7 linked regions of the Homo sapiens genome follow. The protein of the gene in region 7 purifies or fractionates together with the protein of the main gene of each other region. This does not show direct contact. Each region holds a gene or a part of one and is shown on either strand. Other genes may lie near its edges. The genes, in order: PDPR, PC, MOCS1, FDXR, TOP3A, ABHD18 and BPNT1.

The links.
Region 1: the proteins of BPNT1 (region 7) and PDPR purify together in Homo sapiens (affinity purification with mass spectrometry; 2 studies listed by BioGRID and IntAct, with this or other methods). This does not show direct contact.
Region 2: the proteins of BPNT1 (region 7) and PC purify together in Homo sapiens (affinity purification with mass spectrometry; 2 studies listed by BioGRID and IntAct, with this or other methods). This does not show direct contact.
Region 3: the proteins of BPNT1 (region 7) and MOCS1 purify together in Homo sapiens (affinity purification with mass spectrometry; 2 studies listed by BioGRID and IntAct, with this or other methods). This does not show direct contact.
Region 4: the proteins of BPNT1 (region 7) and FDXR purify together in Homo sapiens (affinity purification with mass spectrometry; 2 studies listed by BioGRID and IntAct, with this or other methods). This does not show direct contact.
Region 5: the proteins of BPNT1 (region 7) and TOP3A purify together in Homo sapiens (affinity purification with mass spectrometry; 2 studies listed by BioGRID and IntAct, with this or other methods). This does not show direct contact.
Region 6: the proteins of BPNT1 (region 7) and ABHD18 purify together in Homo sapiens (affinity purification with mass spectrometry; 2 studies listed by BioGRID and IntAct, with this or other methods). This does not show direct contact.

What each region holds. Positions count from the first base shown.
Region 1 is NC_000016.10:70,138,332-70,141,831, reverse strand, and holds part of PDPR (pyruvate dehydrogenase phosphatase regulatory subunit, mitochondrial isoform 1 precursor), read right to left. Parts: intron 2,934-3,500; coding exon 2,809-2,933; intron 1-2,808. UniProt on the Homo sapiens protein: Decreases the sensitivity of PDP1 to magnesium ions, and this inhibition is reversed by the polyamine spermine.
Region 2 is NC_000011.10:66,850,384-66,853,883, forward strand, and holds part of PC (pyruvate carboxylase, mitochondrial precursor), read right to left. Parts: intron 3,001-3,500; coding exon 2,856-3,000; intron 2,454-2,855; coding exon 2,364-2,453; intron 2,278-2,363; coding exon 2,056-2,277; intron 1,564-2,055; coding exon 1,407-1,563; intron 898-1,406; coding exon 657-897; intron 541-656; coding exon 291-540; intron 82-290; coding exon 1-81. UniProt on the Homo sapiens protein: Pyruvate carboxylase catalyzes a 2-step reaction, involving the ATP-dependent carboxylation of the covalently attached biotin in the first step and the transfer of the carboxyl group to pyruvate in the second.
Region 3 is NC_000006.12:39,913,963-39,917,462, forward strand, and holds part of MOCS1 (molybdenum cofactor biosynthesis protein 1), read right to left. Parts: intron 2,271-3,500; coding exon 2,106-2,270; intron 1-2,105. UniProt on the Homo sapiens protein: Isoform MOCS1A and isoform MOCS1B probably form a complex that catalyzes the conversion of 5'-GTP to cyclic pyranopterin monophosphate (cPMP).
Region 4 is NC_000017.11:74,866,495-74,869,994, reverse strand, and holds part of FDXR (NADPH:adrenodoxin oxidoreductase, mitochondrial isoform 1 precursor), read left to right. Parts: intron 1-1,241; exon of another isoform or gene 1,242-1,429; coding exon of another isoform or gene 1,430-1,450; intron 1,451-2,989; coding exon of another isoform or gene 2,990-3,118; coding exon 3,119-3,211; intron 3,212-3,426; coding exon 3,427-3,500. UniProt on the Homo sapiens protein: Serves as the first electron transfer protein in all the mitochondrial P450 systems including cholesterol side chain cleavage in all steroidogenic tissues, steroid 11-beta hydroxylation in the adrenal cortex, 25-OH-vitamin D3-24 hydroxylation in the kidney, and sterol C-27 hydroxylation in the liver.
Region 5 is NC_000017.11:18,287,495-18,290,994, reverse strand, and holds part of TOP3A (DNA topoisomerase 3-alpha), read left to right. Parts: coding exon 1-153; intron 154-308; coding exon 309-438; coding exon of another isoform or gene 439-473; exon of another isoform or gene 474-495; intron 496-3,500. UniProt on the Homo sapiens protein: Releases the supercoiling and torsional tension of DNA introduced during the DNA replication and transcription by transiently cleaving and rejoining one strand of the DNA duplex.
Region 6 is NC_000004.12:128,031,406-128,034,905, reverse strand, and holds part of ABHD18 (protein ABHD18), read right to left. Parts: exon of another isoform or gene 3,130-3,500; intron 1-3,129.
Region 7 is NC_000001.11:220,069,289-220,072,788, reverse strand, and holds part of BPNT1 (3'(2'),5'-bisphosphate nucleotidase 1), read left to right. Parts: intron 1-3,356; coding exon 3,357-3,405; intron 3,406-3,500. UniProt on the Homo sapiens protein: Phosphatase that converts 3'(2')-phosphoadenosine 5'-phosphate (PAP) to AMP and inositol 1,4-bisphosphate (Ins(1,4)P2) to inositol 4-phosphate. Is also able to hydrolyze adenosine 3'-phosphate 5'-phosphosulfate (PAPS) to adenosine 5'-phosphosulfate (APS).

The sequences.
Region 1 (3,500 bases), on a different chromosome or scaffold from region 7:
CACTCTGCCCGGCCCAATTTCCAGGCTAATGTAGTCTAATTTTCAAAATTACCCAGTGTATCAGGCATGCTCCAGAAGGAAAAGACAATCCTGCCAAGCTGCTATCGTCCCTCCCTGGAGCTACGTGTCACGGCATGACTCGGCCTGTATTCACATTCAGCATTCCACATTAGTAGGTAGAAATGATGGCAGAAAGGTCAGGGTCCTAAACCTTACCAAGCTTCATAGCAGAGAAGAAGGTTACTAAGTGGGACACAGGTGGTAACAAAATGTGAAAAAATGGCATTCGATTCTTCATTGTGCCTGTGTTAGGATCTCAGACCTGTTACAGACATTTCCTCCCTGATAATTAACTCACTTCTGAAGTGAAAGGGTACATATTGCAGCTTGATTAGGTGGCTCTGAAATCTGAGAAGTTATATTGTATTGTACCAATGACATTATTCACACAACAAAGCTAGGGTCAGAATTCATTTCTCTTAGGCCGGGTGTGGTGGCTCACGTCTGTAAACCCAGCACTGAGAGGTCGAGGTGGGCGGATCACGAGGTCAGGAGTTCAAGATCAGCCTGACCAATGTGGTGAAACCCTGTCTCTACTAAAAATACATAAATTAGCCAGGCATGGTGGCAGGCGCCTGTAATCCCAGCTACTCGGGAGGCTGAGGCAGGAGAATTGTTTGAACCCAGGAGGCAGAGGTTGCAGTGAGCCGAAATCACGCCACGGCACTCCAGCCTGGGCAATAGAGCAAGACTGTCTCGGAAAAAAAAAAAATTCATTTCCCTTAAGGTCTAATCTTCAACAGCAATAAGTAAAAAAAGCCAGAAGAGTGTGATCTGTGGTCCCTGATCTCACACCATCCCAAACAAAAGGCACATCAAGGCTTGGGGAGGTTGGGAGACAGGAGAAGGAAGCCAGGTGGGGTTCTCTGCATGGTGACAATCTCTCCATCTCCTAGTACTTTCGGTTCTATCATCCCCTCCCCCATTTTCTTTTCTATTTTTTTTTTATTTTTTGTTGAGATGGAATCCCTCTCTATCACCCAGGCTAGAGTGCAGTGGTGAGATCTTGGCTCACTGCAACCTCCATCTCCCGGGTTCAAGTGATTGTCCTGCCTCAGCCTGCCAAGTAGCTGGGATCACAGGCACGTACCACCACATCTGGCTAAATTTTTGTATTTTTAGTAGAGACAGGGTTTCGCCATGTTGGTCAGGCCAGACCTCCTGACCTCAAGTGATCCGCCTGCCTCAGCCTCCCAACATGCTGGGATTACAGGCTTGAGCCACTGCGCCTGGCGCCTTCCCCATTTTCTATGTGCCTGCCACTTCTATTTCATGAGAATTGGCTACCAAAAGTGTCATATCACCAAGCAGAAGCTCAAGCTCAATTATGATTTGTACAGGTTCCAAAGTAACTATGGGTAGGGAAATTTAGGCTTATAATAGTTCAACTTTAAAACAAAAAACTTTGATTTTGTATTTTATTTTTTTGAGACAGGGTCTCAGTCCCACTGCCCAGGCTGGAGTACACAGTGGCACCATCATGGCTCACTGCAGCCTCAACTTCCCCAGCTCAGGTGATTCGCCTACCTCAGCCTCCCAAGTAGCTGGGACTTCAGGTGTGTGCCACTAGGCATGGCTAATTTTTTGGTTTTGGTTTTAGTAGAGACAGGGTTTCGCTACGTTGCCTAGGCTGGTCTCAAACTCCTGACCTCAAGTGACCTACCTCCCTCAACGTCCCAAAGTGCTGGGATTACAGGCATGAGCCACCACACCCAGCCAAGTTCAACATTTTAACCAAAATATTTGCTAAAATTAAAGAACCTTAGCAGTTAAACATATTGCTGTTAGGTCCTTCATCTCCATGGATGTACATCCTCTTCCCAGGCCAAAAGTGAGCACTCAGGCATTAAAGGCCATCCAGAGTCCTCACCAACAATGTTGTTCAACTACCAAACTAACAGTTTACTTGCAACCAAGAATGGTGGTCAGAGCCAACACAGAAACTTAGTCCTGAGCATAAGTATGCCCAAAATATTTAGATACCATTTGGCAAAGTCTGAGAACAGCTCCTCAGTACAGGAAAATGAAATTACAACTTGAACCCACGTGGTTTGGTTCAATTCCTGATACAAAAGCTTTCTAAGGGCTTCCTAGAAAATAAATCAGAGATCAAGGTAGAATAACAAATTAAGATGAAGTGGCCAATCCTTCAAAGTTGAAGCAGGGCGAGAACACGGGAGTGAGAGCAGGAATGTATGTTTTGTATTTATATGGGAAGTGGCTCCCAATCTTGCTGCTGTAGGGTGGATTAATGGTGAAAGTCACTCACGGAAGCCTGAAGCTCTGAGAATAACTCGGCAAATTCTCTGACTTGGAAAGAAAAAACTAAGTGGGGAGTGAGAAAGCATTTTCTCAAAAACTAAGTGGGAGTGAGAAAGCATTCACTTCGACACAGGGTCTCTCAAGGCAGACTGCAGAAAGCACGCACTTCGACATACGGTCTCTCAAGGCAGACCGGGAAGAAGGCATTGCTTAGAATATTTATGAAGCTGCTATGTACCAACTGTAACTCCTATTCTATTTTCTTGTTCTCAGAATGAAACAAGGTCCGATGCACTAAAGAAAATGTTACGTATATATCATGAGGAGCATAAAGCCCCTTAACTCAGGCCTGAAACAGTCAAATCAAATGCCCAACTCAAAGCACTTGTTAAAGAACTGAGGAAAACTTTGCTCCTTCTGAATGACAACACGGGCCACCGAGAAGATACCTGCAACTAGGAGCAACTGCGATAAAGCTTCACTTACGCATGACTTCCATGACCCGGTGGCGCAGAAAGGTGCGGCTGCTCTGGAGGGCTCCAAAACGTTTCAGGTCCAATTCCCAAACGTTTTCTGAGGGATAACCATGTACCATCCATTCGGCAAGGTACCTATATAGACAGAGGGCACGTGTTGGGGCTCAGGTGTGAGATTTGAGAAAATTAATATTCTACAAATCGAGAACAAACAGAATCAAAAGATCCTAAATTGCCATAGACCAGCTGAATAGTTTTGGGCACTTTCCTTAACTTTTCTGGAAGAAACGAACATGGGTCTGTGTACTGCTCTCAAAAGACTACTATGAGGATTTTACCCCAGATGATAAGATTCCCTAGGAGGTATTTAACATAGAAGCCAGCCAGACACATTGGCTGATGCCTGTAATCCCAGAACTTTGGGAGGCTGAGGCAGGAGATTGCTTGAAGTCAGGAGTTTGAGACCAGCCTGGGCAACATAGTAAGACCCCGTCTCTACAGAAAAAAAAAAGTTTCAAAGTGAGCCAGGTGGCTCACACCTGTAATCCCAGCACTTTGGGAGGCCGAGGCAGACGGATCACTTGAGGTCAGGAGTTCGAAACAAGCCTGACCAATGTGGAGAAACCCTGTCTCTATTAAAAATACAAAATTAGCCAGTGTGGTGGCACACGCCTGTAATCCCAGCTACTACGGAGGCTGAGG
Region 2 (3,500 bases), on a different chromosome or scaffold from region 7:
CCGTGCAGTCGAAGGCCGCGTACAGTCCCCGAGCCCCCTCCCAGTACTCACTGTAGTCAAACACGCGCTCCATGGGCACCTCTGCAGGGAGGCCAGAGTCAGAGGAGGCCTTAGAAATGTGTGACTCTTCCAGGACCCAGGGCTAGCTCAGGTCCCATGTCTGACTCAGGTGACAGAAGGCGGCAAGGCCAGAGCAGGGCATCTGGATCCTAGGCAGGTCCAACACTACTGGGACTGGTGGTGGCTGCGGCTTTGAGAGGGGTGTGGCCACGGGCTGCTGTTCTTCCTACCTGTGTCCAGGGGAGTCCCTCTGGTACAGGCCACCAGGGCCCCCATGCTGGGCTGTGAAGTCATCCCAGACATGGAATCAGCTGCCACATCCACCACATCAGCTCCAGCCTGGGCACAGGCCAGCATGGCTGCCACGCCTGCCCCTGACGTGTCGTGGGTGTGGATGTGCAGTGGGAGGTCGGGGAAGCGGTCCCGGAGGGAGCTGACCAGCATGGTGCAGGCCGTGGGCTTCAGCAGCCCGGCCATGTCCTGGGGGAAGTGGGAGAGAGAGAGAGAGAGATGGTAGAGAGGGCAGGATGTGTGCCTGTGGGTGGCGGGGACATGGCCGGGGCAGAGAGGGAGGGACGGACAAGTGGCCCAGGCACCTTGATGCACAGGATGTGGGTGCCAGCTCGCACCAGCTCTTCGGCCAAGCCCATGTAGTACTGCAGTGAGTACTTGGTGCGGCTGGGGTCGGCCACGTCGCCCGTGTATGAGATGGCAGCCTCCACCACGCCTCCGGCACTTCCTGCCGCCTCCATGCCCAGCAGCATGTTGGGCAAGTAGTTGAGGGAGTCAAACACACGGAAGACATCCATGCCATTCTCTTTGGCCACTTCACAGAACCTGCAAGGGTGAGAGAGCCCAGGGCTGAGCCCCACCCCACCTCCCTCTGAACAGTCTTCCCTGGCTCCTTCCTGACCCACTCTATGGCCCCTGGGGAATGAGATCTGAGGGTCTCGCCTGGCAGGGGGTGTGGCATCCACAGGCGGGGGGTGGCCACACAAGTGTGGACCAGGCCCTGGAGGATCAGCTAGGCCAGTGGCAGGCTGTGGAAGAGGGTACTGAGCAAGGAGTCTTGAGGCCTGGGTTCCAATCCCAGCCCTGCACCGAGTGACCCAGGCAAGTCTCAGACCTTCCACTGCCCCAGGAGTGAGGGAGTGATTTAGAAGCCTGTCTGGTTCTGCAACTCCAATTTTACACTTCTCGATATTTCCAAACAGCAGCCCCTGCTGCGTGTGGCCACAGAGAGACTTGGTGTCAGGCTGACCGTGGAGAACAGAGGCCATCACGACATGGCTCGGTACCCTCTGGGCCACACCAGGTAGCGTCTGCCCACCCCACCCCAGGCTCACTTGAAGACCACGTTGTCTGGGTAGTTGGTGTAGCCCACAGCATTGGCCCCCCGCAGCAGCATCTGGAAAGGGATGTTGGGGATGAGCTCCCGGAGCTCCTGCAGCCGCCGCCAGGGGCACTCATACAGGAAGCGCATGGCGACGTCAAACGTGGCTCCTGCACAGGAACCGAGAGGCCCAGATCAGCTCTGCATGCCTGGGGAACTCCACCAGGCCTTGGAGCTAGCTCTGCAGCACAAGCCTCTGGCCCCAATACCAGGTCCTGCTCATCTTCGCCATACCTGTGTTCCCTGCTCCAACCCCCACAGATTTTTCCCTTGTCTGATCTCTAAGGGGGAGACCAGGCTCATTTGTGTCCCTTCTATGCCCCCTTTATAATCCCATCTTCTCCTCTACCTCTCTGTGCTATAATTAACAGGCAGGTGTCTCCTCCTGACCCTGGACCTCCCAGGATGCACCTGGTCTCAGCTCTGCAACCTCGTGCCGGCACCAGGCCTGGCCGGAGAGGGCGCTGTGCCTTCTTCGGTCCTTCCTCTTTGGTGTTCTTCGTGTCAGCGTCTCTAGCTTGTCCCCAGTGGCCTAAGCCTGTGGGACTGGCCACAGAGCGGGCGCCCATTCCTACCAGGCGCTGCGCAGCATGCCAGCCTACCTCCCCAGTTCTCCATGCTGAAGAGCTTGCTGAAGTTGTGGGCAACATAGGGGGCGATCTTTTTGAGATCGTGGGTGCGCACACGAGTGGCCAGCAGTGACTGGTGGGCGTCCCTGAAGGTCGTGTCCATCAGCAGCAGCCCCGGGTGGTTCCGCACAGCTCGAGCAAAGCCCTCAGGCCCCTCTCGCAGCAGGATGTCTCTGAAACCAGCCGGGGGCGGGCCTAGGGTAGACAGGGGCATTGGTGCCCATCCTGCAGGTGGCAACCTCCTGTCTCCCCCATGAGTTGACAGAATGGATCTCACCTACCTATGGGCACTGCAGGGACAACGGGGTCCGTGGGGCTGGGGCTGGCCTTGACGGGAATCGGGGTGGTTGGACCGTTTACCATGACATGGCCTGGGGAGAAAGCGGGCAGTGGGTCAGGGTGGGCTGGGCAGAGGCTGAGTCGAGGGCAGCAGTGAGAGTGGCTGGGCTCAGGGACAGGGACACATCCCTCCAGGATCCCCGGGCTTCCAGCTGGCCCCTGTCCTCTCCAAAGCCAGGGCCTCCTGGGTACAGGCAGTGGGGACGTCTTGAGGACCACGTGGATGGAAAGGTGGGGTCTCTCAGATCAGAAGCAAGGAGAGCAGTGAATGGCAGGGTGCAGGACAAGAGGACGCAGGGCCAGAATGAGGGCAGGGGTGAGGGGCAGGGGGCACTAAGGAGTTCTTTGGTCATGGGGAGTGGCAAGGAGGTAGGAGCAAGAGATTGGAGAGCGGAGGGGAGGGGAGGGCAGGGCAGGGCAGTCTCGGGCCAGACCGAGGTAGTGCAACAGCTTTTGGGCCCGGTTCTGTGCAGGCCGCAGCTGGAACAGCTCTGGGTTCTCGTCGATGAACTGGGTGTCCACAGTGCCTGCCAGGAACTGCTGGTTGTTGAGCACATTCTGCAGGAAGGCGATGTTGGTCTGCAGGACAGAGGCGGGTGGGAGGGGGTCACCATGCAGCACAGACAGGGAAGGCAGAGGAGAAAAGGCTGAAAGAGAAAAGGCTGAAGATGCTGCCCTGGGCCAGCACAGCTTCTGGGCCTCCCTGCAGAGGGGCACTTCCCCGTCCCTCAGCCCTCTCCTCACTCCAGCAGAGCCCCCTAAGCTGTCACGGGCTGGGCCTGCTCCCTCCATACTTGTTTACACCAAAGCATGTGCTGAAGGCCACCCTTCCTGCCTCCCCGCAGCCTAGAACAGGGCTCAGCCTTTTTCTCCAGCAGCGTGGCCCACAGCAGTCACCCTTGCCCCTCGTCCACGCTTCTCGAAAGAGGGCCTTGACCGCAACAGACCACACTCTGGCACTCTAAGTCACTCCTCCCAGCTGAGTCCAGCGGGCATGCTCCCGCCTTGCTGCTCGTTCCCTGGGCTTCCAAGCCATCTTGCTCTCCTGTCCTCTTCCTCCCCAGCTCCTCACACACCAC
Region 3 (3,500 bases), on a different chromosome or scaffold from region 7:
ATATCGTAGGCTTTGCAAGCCAAGAGGCAAAATTGAGGATCCGTGTAAGTACATGTCACAAAGTGTTGGCTAAATTCAAAATGTAATAGTAATAACTGACTACAGTGTCTTGTAAAACAGATCTACAAATGGGATACAATAATGCGATTCTTTTTGCAGGGACAATATTTTGCTTAAATGGGGTTCATAGTTAATGTTCCCTATCATTAACTGATTTTGAATGCTATCTGTAAAATGCATTCTTGGCTCAAAGGCTACATGAAAACAGGCAGGGGGCTAGATGTGGCCTGTGGGCCATAGCATGCTGACCCTGGATCTAGTTGAACCCTCTTGTAGTCTACGGGAGGAAACCAAGACCCAGAGTGAGGCAATGCTCTGCTCAAAGCCCCATGGCTCCATCTTTCAGAATGCAGGTTTTCCACTCCCGTTTCAGTGTTTTTTCCTCAACAGTCCATCAATTATTCACTCAACACATACTCTCTGAGCACCTACTACGCACAGGTGCTGTTCCAGGGCTGGTAAGCAATTATTGTCTCAACAATCATTAACCACAGTCAATGTGACCCCAGGCTGACTTCTCACTGCCCAGTTCTCTCATGCATCCAATCACTTGATCACCTACTGCATCCTGGCCCCCTCCAGCACCCCCAGCCTGCACAGCCTGGGTGGTCACCTGTGAGACAGGGTGCCTAGAGATGGCCTCCATGGTTTCCTTGCAGCATTTTCAGACTGCTCAGTGAGAGGGTAAAGGGAAAAATGTATAGCTTTGAAAAAAATAATGCTGCTAGGATAACCTAGAACTATAAGTTTTCTTTTCTGTAAAACACTCCCCTCCAAAGGCAGGTGGTGGACAAAAGAGTATGAATGGGAGGGAAGATCTGATGTCTCCAATCCATGTGCCAGGAAATAAGAGACAAAAAGGGAGAACGTGTTTGCGGGCAGTACAGCCCACAGATCCACCTCCCACTTTCCCACCGTAGAGCCCTTGCAGGTTCTGTACTCCTGCTCCCCCTCAGAGTATGTGCCATTGATTGAAACCCTCCAGTTCCTCAAGGCCAGCATGCATGCATCCTCCTTGAAGCCCTCCTAGTTCTCTCCTGCTAAGAGTTCTTTCTTCCTCTCTGTAACTCTTTAATCAGTACCACAAGACAAGCAAAGGCTGTCCCATGGAATGACATCTTTTGGCCCTTAGCAGCCTGTAAGGACAGGGCAATGTCTTATGTGTCTTCTGTCCCCTCCACAGCACCTGGAGCAGGCCTCCATAGAGGAAAGAGACACCATGAGTGCTTCCTCAGCACATGGAGGGTATTAAGCAAGGCATCACACCCCGTTTAAGAAAAGGAAGGAAAGAAGGTGGTGGGGCTGATCTTGAAGCTGTTTCCAAGGAAGAGGAAGGAGATCTGGGTCTCCCTGCCACCCCTCTGATCCTCCAGAGTCCTCAGTCATGTACCCCCTCCCAAATATCAAAGGGTATCCCAACCTGAAGAGCCTTTGCCCCAACATGAGGTCCATGCCAAAGGGAAGCCAGGCACTGGTCTCCTGTGACCCAGAGCTCGAGGCTGGCTCCACCTGTCTACCTTGGGCCTCCTGAGGCAGGTGAGTGGAGGGTATGGCTGTGCCTGTAGTAGGAGGTGCATAGGAGGGGCTTATACCCAGGTGGGCACAGGGATAACCATGGGGGCCTGCTGGGGGACCCCCTCCTGGCAGCATACACCCAGACCCTGGCATCCCAGGGTGGCTACTTCCACCCTGGGCTGTCCCGTGTTTCTTCAGAGCTCATCGTAGAATGACCAACTCGGCCCAGTTTGCCACAGACTGTCTTGGTTTTAAAACTTCAAGTCCTTCATTCTAAAACCCCCTCAAGTCCTGGGCAAACTGGGGCTGGGGTGGTGGGGAGGTTGGTCACCCTAGGTCATTAGCGTCTGACCCCCAAAGTCCCTGACATACATTTGGCAAAGATGAGGGGTGAGAAATAAGTGCTTTGACTTACTGATAGCCCAGACACCAAGAGGAAGTGACCAGGCCCCTGGCTCAGCAATGGCCATGCCCTCCCCAGCTATGTGCAGGCCCTGGGAGGGACACCCACCCCATCCACATCCGCTCACCTTTCCTGCGGACAATGAACTCAAACTTGGCAGGCACCAGGGTGTCCAGGCTGATGTTGATGGCACTGAGACCAGCCTTCTGAAGCTGGGGCAGTAGCCGGGCCAGGTTGATGCCATTGGTGGTAACACCTATGGTTCTCAGCCCTTCCAGCCGCTGGAGCTGGGCTGTAAGGACAACAGAAAGGGGGTCAGACTGCTTGCTTGTTCTTGGTGAGGCCGGGAAAAGGGCTGGAAGGCAAAACTCTTTGTCCAGACAAGATGGATGGAAAAGAGGCTCTCTGCAGACCTATATTAACCAGGCCTAACTTAAAAAGAAAGCTAAGAATCAAAACTGACAAAAACAACCAAAAGATTAAGCATTGAGTGCTCTGTGCTAGGTGCTCTGCTGAGGGCTTTGCATACATTAGCTCATTGAAGCCTCACAATAACAATTATCTCATTTAGTAGGTAAGGAAAGAGGTGCTCTGAAAGATTATGAAAATTGCTTAATCTCACACAGTAAGAAGAGCTGGCATTTAAATCCATGTGTACTTGACTCAGGACTCTGCTCTTAACAACCAAGTACTACACAGGTCTTGATACTCTGTATAATGGAAACAAAAGTGTTTGAATTAAGTGCTATTTGACAGCTCCATTCTACCAAATATCCCTAGAAATAATGGAAGGATTTTAAAAATCCATAATAGCATTGGAAGGTAAGAAAGAATGCCGTAGATAGCCCAGAAAGGTAAATTAGTACTGAAAGAGAGAAAGCAGATGGAACCGACCAGACGGATAGAGACCACAGCTCAAAGTGCACCCAGGAGAAGGTTCTGTAAAAACAGGGAGTGACTAGTGTGCACGCAGCTTAGTAGTCACATGTACAGGAGCAGAGGGGTCCTACTACATGTCAGGGAGGTTGTCTAAGAGGGGAGTTATATTTGAAGGAGCTGGACAGGTTGGCCTCATCCTTCCCTGTCGGCACGGGAAGGCAGCAGAAGCATTTGCCTCAAGGATAAAGCACCAGTGCAGACACTTAAGCCAGCCATGGGGCTGTATTAGTTCCTTCTCATGCTGCTAATAAAGAAATACCTGAGACTGGGTAATTTATAAAGAAAAGAGGTTTCATTGACTCACAGTTCAGCATGGTTAGGGAGGCCTCAGGAAACTTACAATCATGGCAGAAGAGGAAGCAAACACGTCCTTCTTCACATGGCAGCAGCAAGAAATGTTGAGCAAAACAGGAAAAGCCCCTTATAAAAATCATCAGATCTCGTCAAAACTCACTATCATGAGAACAGCATGAGGGTAACCACCCCCATTATTAAATTACCTCCTACTGGGTCCCTCCCATGACACGTGGGGATTATGGGAACTACAATTCAAGAAGAGATTTGGGTGGGGACACAGCCAAAC
Region 4 (3,500 bases), on a different chromosome or scaffold from region 7:
CTCATGACAACCTGCAAAGCAGGTGTCGTGCCTCTTGCTTCACAGGTAAGGATGCTAGGGCCAAGTGAGGTTGTCCAAGCTTCCACCGTGGAGCAGGGATGGCACTGGGATCTGAGCGAAGGCAGCTCCATGTGAGGCCATCCATGTTAATCCATTCAGTAATCATTTACTGGACGTAACATGTTCTGGGCGCAGGCTTTACTGGGAACATGGGGGTGAACAGGACAGACGTGGTCCCTGTGCTCGAGGACCTGACATTCGAATGTGGAGGGGACAGGTGGATAATTTACAAGGTATTTTAGGGCTCTGACGGCTATAAGCACAGAGACTGGGGTGCGGGGAGGGGGTCCATGCCCAGTCTGGAGGGAGAGATGTCCCAATTGCAGTCTGAAGGACAGTAGATGTCAGGTTGGGGGACAATAGCAGGAGTGTCCCAGGCACAGAGAACTGCGTGAACAAAGAGGAAGAGAATGGCTCTCTGGGGAAAGGGCAAGTTCTGGAAGGTGCCTGTGTGCAGTAAGGCGTGAGGAGGTGAGAGCCGAGGCTGAGAGGTAGGTAGGACCCAGATCCTGGGGGGCTTGGAAGCCATTGACCAGGCTCTGGAGGCAGGTTTCGCTGGGAGGTGTCCACAGCTGCCTCCTCTTCCCTGATCAGAGTCTCCCGGGGCATCTTATCAAAATGCACATTCCTGGGCCTAACTTGGACCTAATCAAACTCTGTGGCTGGGCCCAAGAGTCAGCAATGTTAAACACCCCGAAGGATTCTTGTGCCCACAGCTGTAGATGGTTGGCTTCACTGGAGAGTTTTCGGGCTGCTGTTTTCCTTCAGGATGCCCCCTCTGCCTGCAGCGTAGGTCCAGGCAGGGCTGGTGGCCAGATAGCAGTGGGGAGCTGCTGGGGTTGTAGTGAGGAAGAGGACTGGGAGGATGGGGGATTGATGGGATCAGGTCGGGGGTCAGGGAGGAGCCCCAGGTTCCAGCTTGGGCTCTGAGTGGATGGGGTCGAGGGAACAGGAGCAGAAGTGGGGAGCGGTTTGGGGCAAGGGGACTTGGCTTGAAACTGGATGGATTTGAGATGTCTGGGGTGGGACATCCAAGGGTCTCAGGTTTGGAGCTTGGGGAGATGTCTGGGCAGGAGAGAGAGAGTAGAAAGTCATCAGCAAGTTCAGGGGAATTTGGGGTCGCAGGAGGGAGTGGGTTAAATCCTCAGGGAGGAGGGAGGGGGGCCAATCGGAAGAACCTCAGAGAATGTCCTTGTTAGCGGGGAGCAGCTAGAGGGACAGGAGGGAGGGAAGGAAGGAAGGAGGAAACCTGGAAGATGAGGTCAGCCACGAGAGATAAGGGGTAAGAACATCCGGCAGACTTAGCGTTCCGGAGGTGGCCCTGGAGAGGACATCGTGACCCAGAGTGAAGGATCTGTCGCAGGAAAGAATGGAAGATAAGGACAGAGAGGTTGGTTGGGTGAGGTGTTGACCTCTAGGCCGAGCAGTTTGAACTTTATGCTGTGGCACTGGGCCCCAGCGAAGATTTTTGAGCAAGGCAGTGACATACAACAACAGAATAGTAATGATAGCTCTCTTCTTGATTGAACACTCAGAGTAGGTTGCACCCCGGGCTGCCTGATTACTCATTTAACCTTGAGCAGGACACCACAGGGCTCTTCTTTTGGACAGAGAAGAAACTTTCCCCAGTGCACAGAGCCAGCTAGTGCTAGAGCTGGGACTGGCATCCAAGGCTACCTGTTTGACTCCAAGCCCAGAGCGCTTTGTGGGTACAACATCGTGGGGCTTGAGGGAGGTGGTTTGGGTAGCCCCCTGTGGCTGGCCTGGGATGGAGAGAGGCAGGAGGTGGGGGAGGGTGGACTTGGGTGCAGGCAGGGGAGTGGAGGGGAAGGGGGGATTTGGGCAAAGGCGAAGAGGTGGGTGGGAGCCTTTGTTGGGGGTAGGGAGACTGATGGGCAGGGGCTTCTTTGCCTTGAGTCCCAGTGAAGCTGGAGGTGTCATAGCGGGGACCTAAGATAGGATGGGGGGCTGGGCGTGTCAGCTGTGGGACCCCTGACTGCTTTACTGCTAACCGGCCTGTGGCCCAGAGTCTCACCATCCTGACCTCCTGGTGCTTTCCAGCAGCCATGAGAGAGAGCTGTCATCCATCCTAGTGTGCAGAGGGGGAGACTGAGACTTGGGGAGGCCCTGGGACTTGCTGGGATCATGTGGCTGGTTGGTGGCAGAGCCATACCAGACTTGCCTGCTGGACCCCCGACCCTGTGCCTTTCACACGGCCTCTCAAGGTGCCCTGGGAAGGCGGTCATGCAGAACCAGTGCCTGAGACTGTCTTTCTAAGAGTGGGAGCAGGCCCATTTCCACCTCTCTTTCCCGTGAATTCCCAGCCGTGCCCCCTCCCTGTCCTGCTGCTCCCCTTTCCCCAGAGCATGGTCCTGGGCACTAGAGCTAAGGCACCTGTGAATTCAGAGGGTGGCCCTCAGGTCCTCAGACTGGCTGGGACCTGAGGGTCCCAAGTGTCGAAGGGTTGGAGGCCAGGGCTGTGGGTTGTGCTTGACCTGAGAAGATAAAGAAGCCGCCCTGATATAATTCCAGTCGGGGGAAGCCACGGCCTTGTCAGCTGGCCACATTTCTCCCCATCTCTGAGGGCCGGCCGTCGTCGTCTTTTTTTTTTTTTTTTTTTTTTTTTTTGAGACAGAGTCTTGCTCTGTCACCCAGGCTGGAGTGCAATGGCGCGATCTTCGCTCACTGCAACCTCTGCCTCCTGGGTTCAAGCGGTTCTCCTGCCTCAGCCTCCCAAGTAGCTGGGATTGCAGGTGCCTACCACCACGCTCAGCTAATCTTTGTATTTTTAGTAGAGACAGGGTTTCACCATGTTGGTCAGGCTGGTCTCGAACTCCTGACCTCAGGTTATCCACCTGCCTCAGCCTCCCAAAGTGCTGGGCTGACAGGCGCGAGCCACCCAAGGAGTGAGTGCTCTTTTTCCTTGCAGAGGGTGGAAGCCTTGTGTTCTCAGCCCAGGGTCCTGAACTCTCCTGCTCTGTCTGGGGAAGGGGAGGACCTGGGGGCGTCCCAGCCTCTCTCTCTCGGCCCCACCAGCTGCCACCCTGTTCCCCAGCAGCACCCCCAGGCCCACGTGGACATCTACGAGAAACAGCCTGTGCCCTTTGGCCTGGTGCGCTTTGGTGTGGCGCCTGATCACCCCGAGGTGAAGGTGGGTGTCTCTGGGCCTGGAGGCTGGGGTTTGGAGACTTTGGTCAAGATGAGGAGGGCAGGGAGGCTCCCTGGCTGGATGACAGGACTTCATGCCGTCTGTGCCCATGCCACCCAGCTTCCCTCCTGGGGACACAGAGTGGTGAGGGTGGTGCAGACTTGGTCCCTGGAGCTGCCTTACCCTCTAACCCCTCCCATTCCCGGGGGACCTGGCAGAATGTCATCAACACATTTACCCAGACGGCCCATTCTGGCCGCTGTGCCTTCTGGGGCAACGTGGAGGTGGGCAG
Region 5 (3,500 bases), on a different chromosome or scaffold from region 7:
CGCCATTTCCTGGCTTGCTGCTCCCAGGATGCTCAGGGGCAGGAGACCACAGTGGAGATCGACATCGCTCAGGAACGCTTTGTGGCCCATGGCCTCATGATTCTGGCCCGAAACTATCTGGATGTGTATCCATATGATCACTGGAGTGACAAGGTAATAAAGAGTGGTCCCCAGTGAGAGGGAGGACAGTTGTGTTGTGAGCCCTGAGTTCTCTAGTGGAGCAGGATCATGTTCCTTGAAATGAGGTTATTTTTTGCCTGAGTGTGCTGATGGAATCATCTGACTGTTGCACCTGCCGCTCCCTGTAGATCCTCCCTGTCTATGAGCAAGGATCCCACTTTCAGCCCAGCACCGTGGAGATGGTGGACGGGGAGACCAGCCCACCCAAGCTGCTCACCGAGGCCGACCTCATTGCCCTCATGGAGAAGCATGGCATTGGTCAGTGGCTCCTCTGGGTAACTCGCATCTCTTGAGCTAAGGCTTACAGTGTACCAGGTACAGGTTTCCTCTAGTCTTCAAACCATTCTCTAATGCAGCTGCTATATCTTTATCCCATTTTATAGTTGAAATAAGGCTCAGAGAGGTTAAGAACTTACCTAAGTTCACAAAGTGTGTATTATTAAAACCTGGTCTGAATAACTCCACAGTCAGTGCTCTTAAACCATGCACTGTGCTGTCCACATAGTAACAGAGACTTTTCCCATGGCTTTGAGGGCCCAACTGGGAGCACCCATTGGCCACATGAGGATTTGTTGTTCTTTCGAATAAGAACAGCATGTAAGGAACCAACAATTAAAACTTGGGACAGTTATCATAAAATCTATCTTCATTTTGAAGTGTCAGATAGAGCCCTGAGCCTCCTTCCCATGTGGAGCATTGGGTGAGGGTGGCAGCTGTCTCTGCAGGTCTGAACCCACACTGCTCACTCAGGCTGCTCACGCTGGCCTCATGTATGTGCCAGGACCCTGCTGATAAGTCCCATGGCTCAAGCTTTGCAGGTAGGGCCTTGTAACTAATCTGCTGTCCCCTCCATTCGTTTTTGTCAAGGCTCTCAAGGGCTTTCTCTGGCAAACCTAGTCCAGGAATACCTGCAGCACAGTGGAGGGGAAGCAGAGCTCCCTGGGCATGTGTTACATAAGCAGCTGCGTCATCCACAAAGGGAGTTTCTTAGGCCTATGACTTGGGAAGCAGTGCTTCAACGTGAAGTCCTTGACCATCACTAGGACATCCAGAAACCCTGCAGGTTTAGGTAAAATTAGTAGAGGTTCACCCGTCATGATTTATTTGATAAAAATGTATGAAGGCTGGGTGTGGTGGCTCACACCTGTAATCCCAGCATTTTGGGAGGCCAAGATGGGTGAATCACTTGAGCCCAGGAATTCAAGACCAGCTTGGGCAACACGGTAAAACCCCATCTTGCTGGGCGCAGTGGCTCACGCCTGTAATCCCAACACTTCAGGAGGCTGAGCTGGGTGGATCACCTGAGGTAGGGAGTTTAAGACCACCAACCTGACCAACATGGTGAAACTCTGTCTCTACTAAAAATACAAAAATTAGCCAGGCATGGCGGTGGGCACCTGTAGCTGAGATTGTGCCATTGTACTCCAGCCTGGGCAACAACAGCAAAACTCTGTCTTAAAACAAACAAACAAACAACAACAACAACAACAAAACAGATCTGGCTGGGCACGGTGACTCATGCCTGTAATCTTAGTACTTTGGGAGGCCAAGGCGGGTGGATCACCTAAGGTCAGGAGTTCGAGACCAGCCTGGCCAACATGGCAAAACCCCATCACTACTAAAAAAATACAAAAATTAGCTAGGCGTGGTGGCACATGCCTGTAATCCCAGCTACTTGGGAGGCTGAGGCAGGAGAATTGCATGAACCCGGGAGGTGGAGGATGCAGTGAGCCAGGATCGCAGCACTGCACTCCAGCCTGGGTGACAGAGTGAGACTCCATCTCAAAAAAAACATTTCTACAAAAAATTAGGTGCATGCCTATAGGTAGGGAGGCTGAGGTGGGAGGATCACTTGAGCCCGGAAGGCAGAGACTGAGGTACAAAGTGTGAGGCCCACAAGAGTGAGAGCTTGGACTAAGCACCAGGGACACAAGGAGGAATAAGACCTCATTTTTTAAGTTCTCAATCTAACAGAAGAACCAAACCAACACATTGAATACAATGTAATAGTTCTGCAGGGAGTAGGCAGGGAAGAAAATGTGATGGGTGGACTGGCATTTGAGCTGGACCAAAACCTCATAGTAAGACTTCTGGATCAGCGAAGGGCAGCCCAGTGCAGGGTAGGCCTGAGGAAGGGCACAGGAGCAGGAAAGCAGAAGCCTGCTGTAGCTGGATTGGAGGGGGGTGGCCATAGAAGGTGAGCCTGGAAAGATGATCCAAGCCTGACTTTGCAGGGCCTTGGCTTGCCCAGTTGAAGGGCTTAGATGGTGGTACATGGTCAGCAGGGAGTCTTCCAGGATTTCTAAGTAAAGGAACCACATAGAGGTACACTTACAAAAAAATAATAATAATATTTTTAAAAGATTATTAACAGGCTGGGCATTGTGTCTCACACCTATAATCCCAGCACTTTGGGAGACCAAGGTAGGGGGTCAGGAGTTCAAGACCAGCCTGGACAACATGGTGAAACTCCATCTCTACTAAAAATACAAAAAATTGCTAGGTGTTATGGCTGACGCCTGTAATCCCAGCTACTTAGGAGGCTGAGGCAGGAGAATTGCTTGAACCCGGGAGGTGGAGGTTGCAGTGAGCCAAGATTGTGCCACTGCACTTCAGCCTTGGTGACAGAGAGAGACTCCATCTAAAAAAAAAAAAAAAAAAAATTTATATATATATATATATAATTATTAACAGCTTTATTTATATACCATACAGTTTATCTCCTTCAAATGTATAATGTACATTTTTTAGCATATTCACAAAGTTGTGCAGCTATCACCACAGTCAGTTTTTTTGTTTTTTTTGTTGTTTGTTTGAGATGGAGTTTTGCTCTTGTTGCTGCAGGCTGGAGTGGAGTGGCACAATCTCTGCTCACTGCAACTTCCGCCACCCAGGTTCAAGCGATTCTCCTGTCTCAGCCTCCCGAGTAGCTAGGCTTACAGGCACGCACCACCACACCCAGCTAATTTTTGTTATTTTTAGTAGAGACAGGGTTTCACCATGTTGGCCAGGTTGGCTGGTCTCAAACTCCTGACCTCATGATCCGCCCACCTAGGCCTCCCAAAGTGTTAGGATTACAGGTGTTAGCCACCATGCCCGGCCCCTAAAAAAATTTGTTTTGGAGAGATAGCATCTTACTCTGTCACCCAGGCTAGGTCACAGCCATGAACCCTGGGTTTCAAGGGATCCTTCCACCTCAGCTTCCCAAGTAGCTGGGACTACAGGCATGTGTTGCCATACCCAGCTAATTTTTTTGTTGGGTTTTTTGTTTGTTTGTTTTGTTTTGTTTGAGACAGAGTCTTACTCTGTCACCCAGGCTG
Region 6 (3,500 bases), on a different chromosome or scaffold from region 7:
CCGAGGCAGGCGGATCACCTGAAGTCGGGAGTTTGAGACCAGCCTGATCAACATGGAGAAACCCCGTCTCTACTAAAATTACAAAAAATTAGCCGGGTGTGGTGGCACATGCCTATAATCCCAGCTACTCGGGAGGCTGAGGCAGGAGAATTGCTTGAACCTGGGAGGCAGAGGTTGTGTGAGCTGAGATCACACCATTGCACTCCAACCTGGGCAACAAGAGCGAAACTCTGTTTCAAAAAAAAAAGAAAGAAAAAGAAAAGGAATAGACAAATTTTATCTTCCATAAGATATTTTTTCTTTTCTTTTTTCTTTTTTTTTAGAGACAAGATCTCACTATGTTGCCTAGGCTTGAGTGCAGTGGTTACTCTCAGGTGCAATCATAGCACGCTGCAGCCTCAAACTCTTGGCCTCAAGCTATCTTCCCACCTCAGCCTGTTGAGTATCTGGAACTACAGTCCTGCGACACCCTGCCCCACTCATATTTTTTTCTAAAGCTGTTTTTTTCCTATTGTATAATACATTTTTATAGCAGAATATTCAGAAAATCCAAAACATAGGAAGGGGAAAACATCATAATCCCATCACTCACATCTACTGTTAACCTTTTCATATCTTTCCTCCAGGCTTTTAAGAAAATGCATGTCTAGGCCAGGCGCGGTGGCTTACGCCTGTAATCCCAGCACTTTGGAAGGCCAAGGAGGGCGGATCACAAGGTCAGGAGTTCGAGACCAGCCTGGCCAACATGGTGAAACCCCATCTCTACTAAGAATACAAACATTAGCCGGGTGTGGTGGTGGGTGCCTGTAATCCCAGCTACTCGAGAGGCTGAGGCAGGAGAATTGCTTGAACCTGGGAGGCGGAGGATGCAGTGAGCCAAGATCGCGCCACTGCACTCCAGCCTAGGTGACAAGCAAGACTCCAGCTCAAAAAAAAAAAAAAAAAAGAAAAAAGAAAATGCATGTCTATATTTTCACCCAGTTTAAATAACTATCAGATATTAATTTTGTATCCCACTTGTTCAACTAACCATATCCTCACATCCAAACACAGCTATTAAGACTGTCTTTAGCCGGGTGCGGTGGCTCACGCCTGTAATCCCAGAACTTTGGGAGGCCGAGACAGGCGGATCACGAGGTCAGGAGATCGAGACCATCCTGGCTAACATGGTGAAACCCCGTCTCTACTAAAAATAGAAAAAAATTAGCCGGGCGTGGTGGCGGGCGCCTGTAGTCCCAGCTACTGCAGAGGCTGAGGCATGAGAATGCCGTGAACCCAGGAGGTGGAGGTTGCAGTGAGCCAAGATCATGCCACCGCACTCCAGCCTGAGTGACAGAGGGAGACTCTGTCTCAAAAAAGACAAAAAAAAAAAAAAAAAAAAGACTATCTTTGAAACTGATAGCCTGCTAATAGATTATTATTTCCAATATGTTGGGAAGTCATAGTTTTACAACATGCTTGTCTTTCTTTGGCTCAAGTACTTGTTCCCTGTGAATTATAATGAACCATAAGAAGGGAAAAAAATTAGAGGTGGATATTTGCATGTTGGTGTAAACACATAAAGAGATTTTGTTTTGAAGACAGATATGACAGCAATAGGGAAGAAGTAAAGAGGGCTTTGAAATTATTGCCCACTGGATAATTTTTTTTTTGAGACAGAGTCTCACTCTGTCACCCAGGCTGGAGTGCAGTGGTGCGATCTCGGCTCACTGCAAGCTCTGACCTCTGGGTTCACACCATTCTCCTGCCTCAGCCTCTGCAGTAGCTGGGACTACAGGCACCCGCCACCACGCCCAGCTAATTTTTTTCTATTTTTAGTAGAGACAGGGTTTCACCATGTTAGCCAGGATGGTCTTGATCTCCTGGCCTCGTGATCCACCCGCCTCGGCCTCCCAAAGTGCTGGGATTACAGGCGTGAGCCACCACGCCCGGCCCACCCACTGGATAATTTTTTTCCTCAGAGTTAGTTCCAGGCACTTGCTCTTGTGGAATGAATCTGAATTTGTTTACTTCCTGGTGCCAAAAGTTACAATACGGGCTTGTGTACATGTAATGTATGTCCCTTTTTAATCATGTGAATAGTCTCTTATTCACCTGTATTATCAATAAGCTCTAAATAACACAAAATATTAGAGCACATAAAGGAATGGCTTTATTTATTCATTCATTCATTTTTTGAGACAGAGTCTCACTGTCACCCAGGCTGGAATGTAGTGGTGCGATCTCAGCTCACTGCAACCTCTGCCTCCAGGGGGAATGCAGTGGTGCGATAGCTCACTGCAACCTCCACCTCCCAGGTTCAAGCGGTTCTCCTGCCTCAGCCTCCTGAGTAGCTGGGACTATAGGTGCGTGCCCACCACGCCCAGCTAATTTTTGTATTTTTAGTAGAGACGGGGTTTTACCATATTGGCCAGGCTGGGCTCGAACTCCTGATGTCATGATCCACCCGCCTTGGCCTCCTGAAGTGCTGGGATTACAGATGTGAGCCACCGCACCTGGCGGCTTCTTTTATTTTTATGTTTGGTGTGTGAAAAGACTGAATTTTTAAAAATTCTACTATTCCAATGTCATCTAACCTCTGTTAAGTTTTGAAGTGACTGATGGGGAATGGAAGAGGTCAAATAGCTTAGTAGTGACTCCACTTGAGCAAGTTACTTAATCTTTTTTGTTCCCTTTATTCTGTGTAAAGGGGATAATAACAGAGCAATTGCCCTAGCATCTGGCACATGATAATAGTTAACATTTATCTCTCTCAAATGAAGCCTTCATAATAGCACTTTTGTGTTTTTATATTTGACTTTGATTATAAATCTACTCTTCCTAATACGTCTTAGCTATACTCCCACTTAGATACACAAAAGAGTGAAAGAAATTTGATACTAATTTACTAATGCAAGCATGTGGGTCCTCTGCGTTCACATGTATAACAGAACTTTAGACTCTTCTTAAGCAATCCTAGCAACCCTAGGTAGTCACGGATTTTTGTTTATTTGTTTTAATTTTGTTGTGCCAGAGGGCCAATGAGTATTGGATAGTCTGCTCACTCACCAATAGGGACTCAAATGCTGCATGAATACTTCTTAAAAGATCATACTATAAAAAGAAAGGTTTACTATATCCTTCAAGACATGAGAGACTTGAACAATTGGTTTATTTCTAAAAAGGGTGACATTTATAAGTTGGGCTAGATAAGTAACAACATAGAAAAATTATTTCCTCCGTTAACAAGAGCTAAAACATGTCAAACATATCACATACAATTCTTCTATTATATAGCTATCCAGTTGGAAGTTTTTTTTAACACTTATGTACAGGGCACTGATCTAACCATTTATGTGAATCAATTTACTTAATCATTAATAATAACATGAGGAATATGTTTCAATAATGCAGAATACCAGAAAATTATAGTTTTAGCATAAAAAAATTTTTTTTTTTGAGACGGAGTCTCGCTCTGTCTCCCAGGCTGAAGTGCAGTGGCGTGATCTCGGCTCACTGCA
Region 7 (3,500 bases):
ATAATATTTGCATGTAAGATGAAAAATTGGTAGTTATAAAATAGGGGCAACCAGAAACTTGATATCTTTCAGAGCCAACATGGAAGTATCAGGCAACCATATGGATTTAGAGTTCAGTTTCTCATCCTATGGGTTTCCTTTGCACTCTAAAACCGTTATTTAAAATACTTTTAGGGACAGGCATGGTGGCTCACACCTGTAATCCCAGCACTCTGGGAGGCCGAGGTGGTTGGATTGCTTGAGTCTAGGAGTTCGAGACCAGACTCGGCAACATGGTGAAACTCTGTCTCAACAAAAAATACAAAAATTAGCCAGGTATGGTGGTGCACACTTATAGTCTCAGCTACTTGGGAGGTTGAGATGGGAGGATCACCTGAGCCCATGGAGGTTGAGGCTGCAACCAGCACCATCTCTTTTTTTTTTTTCTGAGACGGAGTCTCGCTCTGTCACCAGGCTGGAGTACAGGGCCGCGATCTTGGCTCACCACAACCTCCACCTCCTGGGTTCAGGCGATTCTCCTGCCTCAGCCTCCCAAGTAGCTAGGACTACAGGCGCGCACCACCATGCCCAGCTAATTTTTTTGTATTTTTAGTAGAGATGGGGTTTCACCATGTTGGCCAGAATGGTCTTGATCTCTTGACCTCGTGATCCGCCTACCTCAGCCTCCCAAAGTGCTGGGATTACAGGCTTGAGCCACCTTACCTGGCCCCAGCACCATCTCTTAAAGAGATTATTTTTTCCCCAGTTGAATGGCCCTGGCACACTTGTGAAAAATCAGCAGGCCATAGATGTATAGGTTTCACGCTGGCCATGGTGGCTCACGCCTATAATCCCAGCACTTTGGGAGGCTGAGGCGGGCAGATCACCTGAGGTCGAGAGTTCAAGACCAGCCTGACCAACATGGAGAATCCCCGTCTCTTCTAAAAATACAAAATTAGCTGGGCGTGGTGGCACATGCCTGTAATCCCAGTTACTCAGGAGGCTGAGGCAGGAGAATTGCTTGAACCTGGGAGGCGGAGGTTACAGTGAGCCGAGATTGCGCCATTGCACTCCAGTCTGGGTGACAAGAGCAAAACTTAGTCTCAAAAAGAAGAAAAAAGAAAAGAAATAGATGTATGGGTTTCATTATGGACTCTCAGTTATATTCTATTGGTCTATATGTCTATCCTTATGCCAGTACCACACTTTCTTGCTTTGCATTAAGTTTTGCAATTGGGAAGTGTAAGTTGTCCTACTTTGTTCCTACCTTGTGCAGTTTTACATGTACCTTACAGCCTGGACAGCAGAGTGAGACCCTGTCTCATTAAATAAATAAATAAATACTTTTAGGAAGAAAATCTAATTTGTTATTTAGTAGATATGTAGTAGATTTGCTAGTAAAACATTCATTGGTAATTGGGGATAGAAGGCTATGAAACAGGTTGCTACCTTATATTTTTAGAAGAACATAAATGTCATCCTGCTTGCTTTTTATAGTTGCTTAAGTTAAACCTGTGACTTCAGATAGCCACCATAATGTCTTTAGTTTTCCAATTTTTAATTATTTAAGGCATATTCATTGGAGACTTACTATGAATAAGACACTTTGCTCTGTGGTATGGAGGAAACAAAGAAAATGAGACATGGTGGGGCTGGGCATGGTGGCTCACGCCTGTAATCTCAGCACTTTAGGAGGCCGAGGCAGGCGGATCACGAGGTCAGGAGATCGAGACCAACCTCCGCCTCCCAGGTTCAAGCAATTCTCCTGCCTCAGCCTCCTGAGTAACTGGGATTACAGGCATGTGCCACCACGCCCAGCTAATTTTGTATTTTTAGAAGAGACGGGGATTCTCCATGTTGGTCAGGCTGGTCTTGAACTCTCGACCTCAGGTGATCTGCCCGCCTCAGCCTCCCAAAGTGCTGGGATTATAGGCGTGAGCCACCATGACCAGCGTGAAACCTATACATCTATGGCCTGCTGATTTTTCACAAGTGTGCCAGGGCCATTCAACTGGGGAAAAAATAATCTCTTTAAGAGATGGTGCTGGGGCCAGGTAAGGTGGCTCAAGCCTGTAATCCCAGCACTTTGGGAGGCTGAGGTAGGCGGATCACGAGGTCAAGAGATCAAGACCATTCTGGCCAACATGGTGAAACCCCATCTCTACTAAAAATACAAAAAAATTAGCTGGGCATGGTGGTGCGCGCCTGTAGTCCTAGCTACTTGGGAGGCTGAGGCAGGAGAATCGCCTGAATCCGCTAACACGGTGAAACCCTATCTCTACTAAAAATACAAAAAATTAGCTGGGTGTGGTGGCAGGCGCCTGTAGTCCCAGCTACTTGGGAGGCTGAGGCAGGAGAATGGCATGAACCCGGGAGGCAGAGGTTGCAGTGAGCCGAGATCGCGCCACTGCACTCCAGCCTGGGTGACAGAGTGAGACTCTGTCTCAAAAAAAGCAAAAAAGAAAAGAAAGTGAGACATGGTGTTCTCCATCAGAAACATGCCCTCACTCAGAAATTCACATAATGTTATCATTGTAGTGGTTAAAGGCAGCATATCCTGAATCATATTAAATGTCCTAAACAGAAGGAATTTTCCTTTTAAATCTGCTGCCAGTTTTATTATTCATTTTTCTTTGGATTGTATGGACTGTGTCCTTAAGATAATCAGACTTGTTTTTTTAAAATCAGCACTTATATATAAAAATGAGTAGCAACTGTGCTTGTTCAAAACATTTTTTTGCCACTTTACAAGTTTTTCCTGTACCATGATCTAGAGATCAGTATATTCATTGTGCTTAGTGTTCAAATGACAACAAACTTTTATCAGTTAAGCATTTCATGTTGAAAATCATTTTTTTGTATTTTTTTTTTTTGAGATGGAGTTTTGCTCTTGTCATCCAGGCTGGAGTGCAATGGCACGATCTCTGCTCACTGCTACCTCCGCCTCCTGAGTTCAAGTGATTCTCCTGCCTCAGCCTACTGAGTAGCTGGGATTACAGCCACCCACCACCACGCCCGGCTAATTTTTGTATTTTTAGTAGAGATGGGGTTTCACCACTTTGGCCGGGCTGGTCTCGAACTCCTGACTTCAGGTGATCCACCCGCCTCGGCCTCTCAAAGTGCGGGATTACAGGTGTGAGCCACCGTGCTTGGCCTGAAAATTCTTAAATCAGACTTTTTTCTTATTCAAATGGACTTTTTCCATGATTACAAAAGAATAAGCTTTTTGTACTATCTCAAAACAGATGACATTAATTTAAGCCATCCATAATACAATTTCAAACAGGAAAAAAAGAGTAATTTTAATCTATTTAAATCTATTTTTAGAATTTTGTGTGCTTGATTTAGATATTTTCCTTCTCTCTTTTTAATTTTAGCTCGTGGTCTGGGTTGATCCTCTGGATGGAACCAAGGAATATACCGAAGGTTGATATCTCTTTTGTATTCATATTTGACAGTAGTGGGACAAGGATATGATGTTAGTTGTAAATATTTGATATTTTGTATGTTGTATGGAAAGC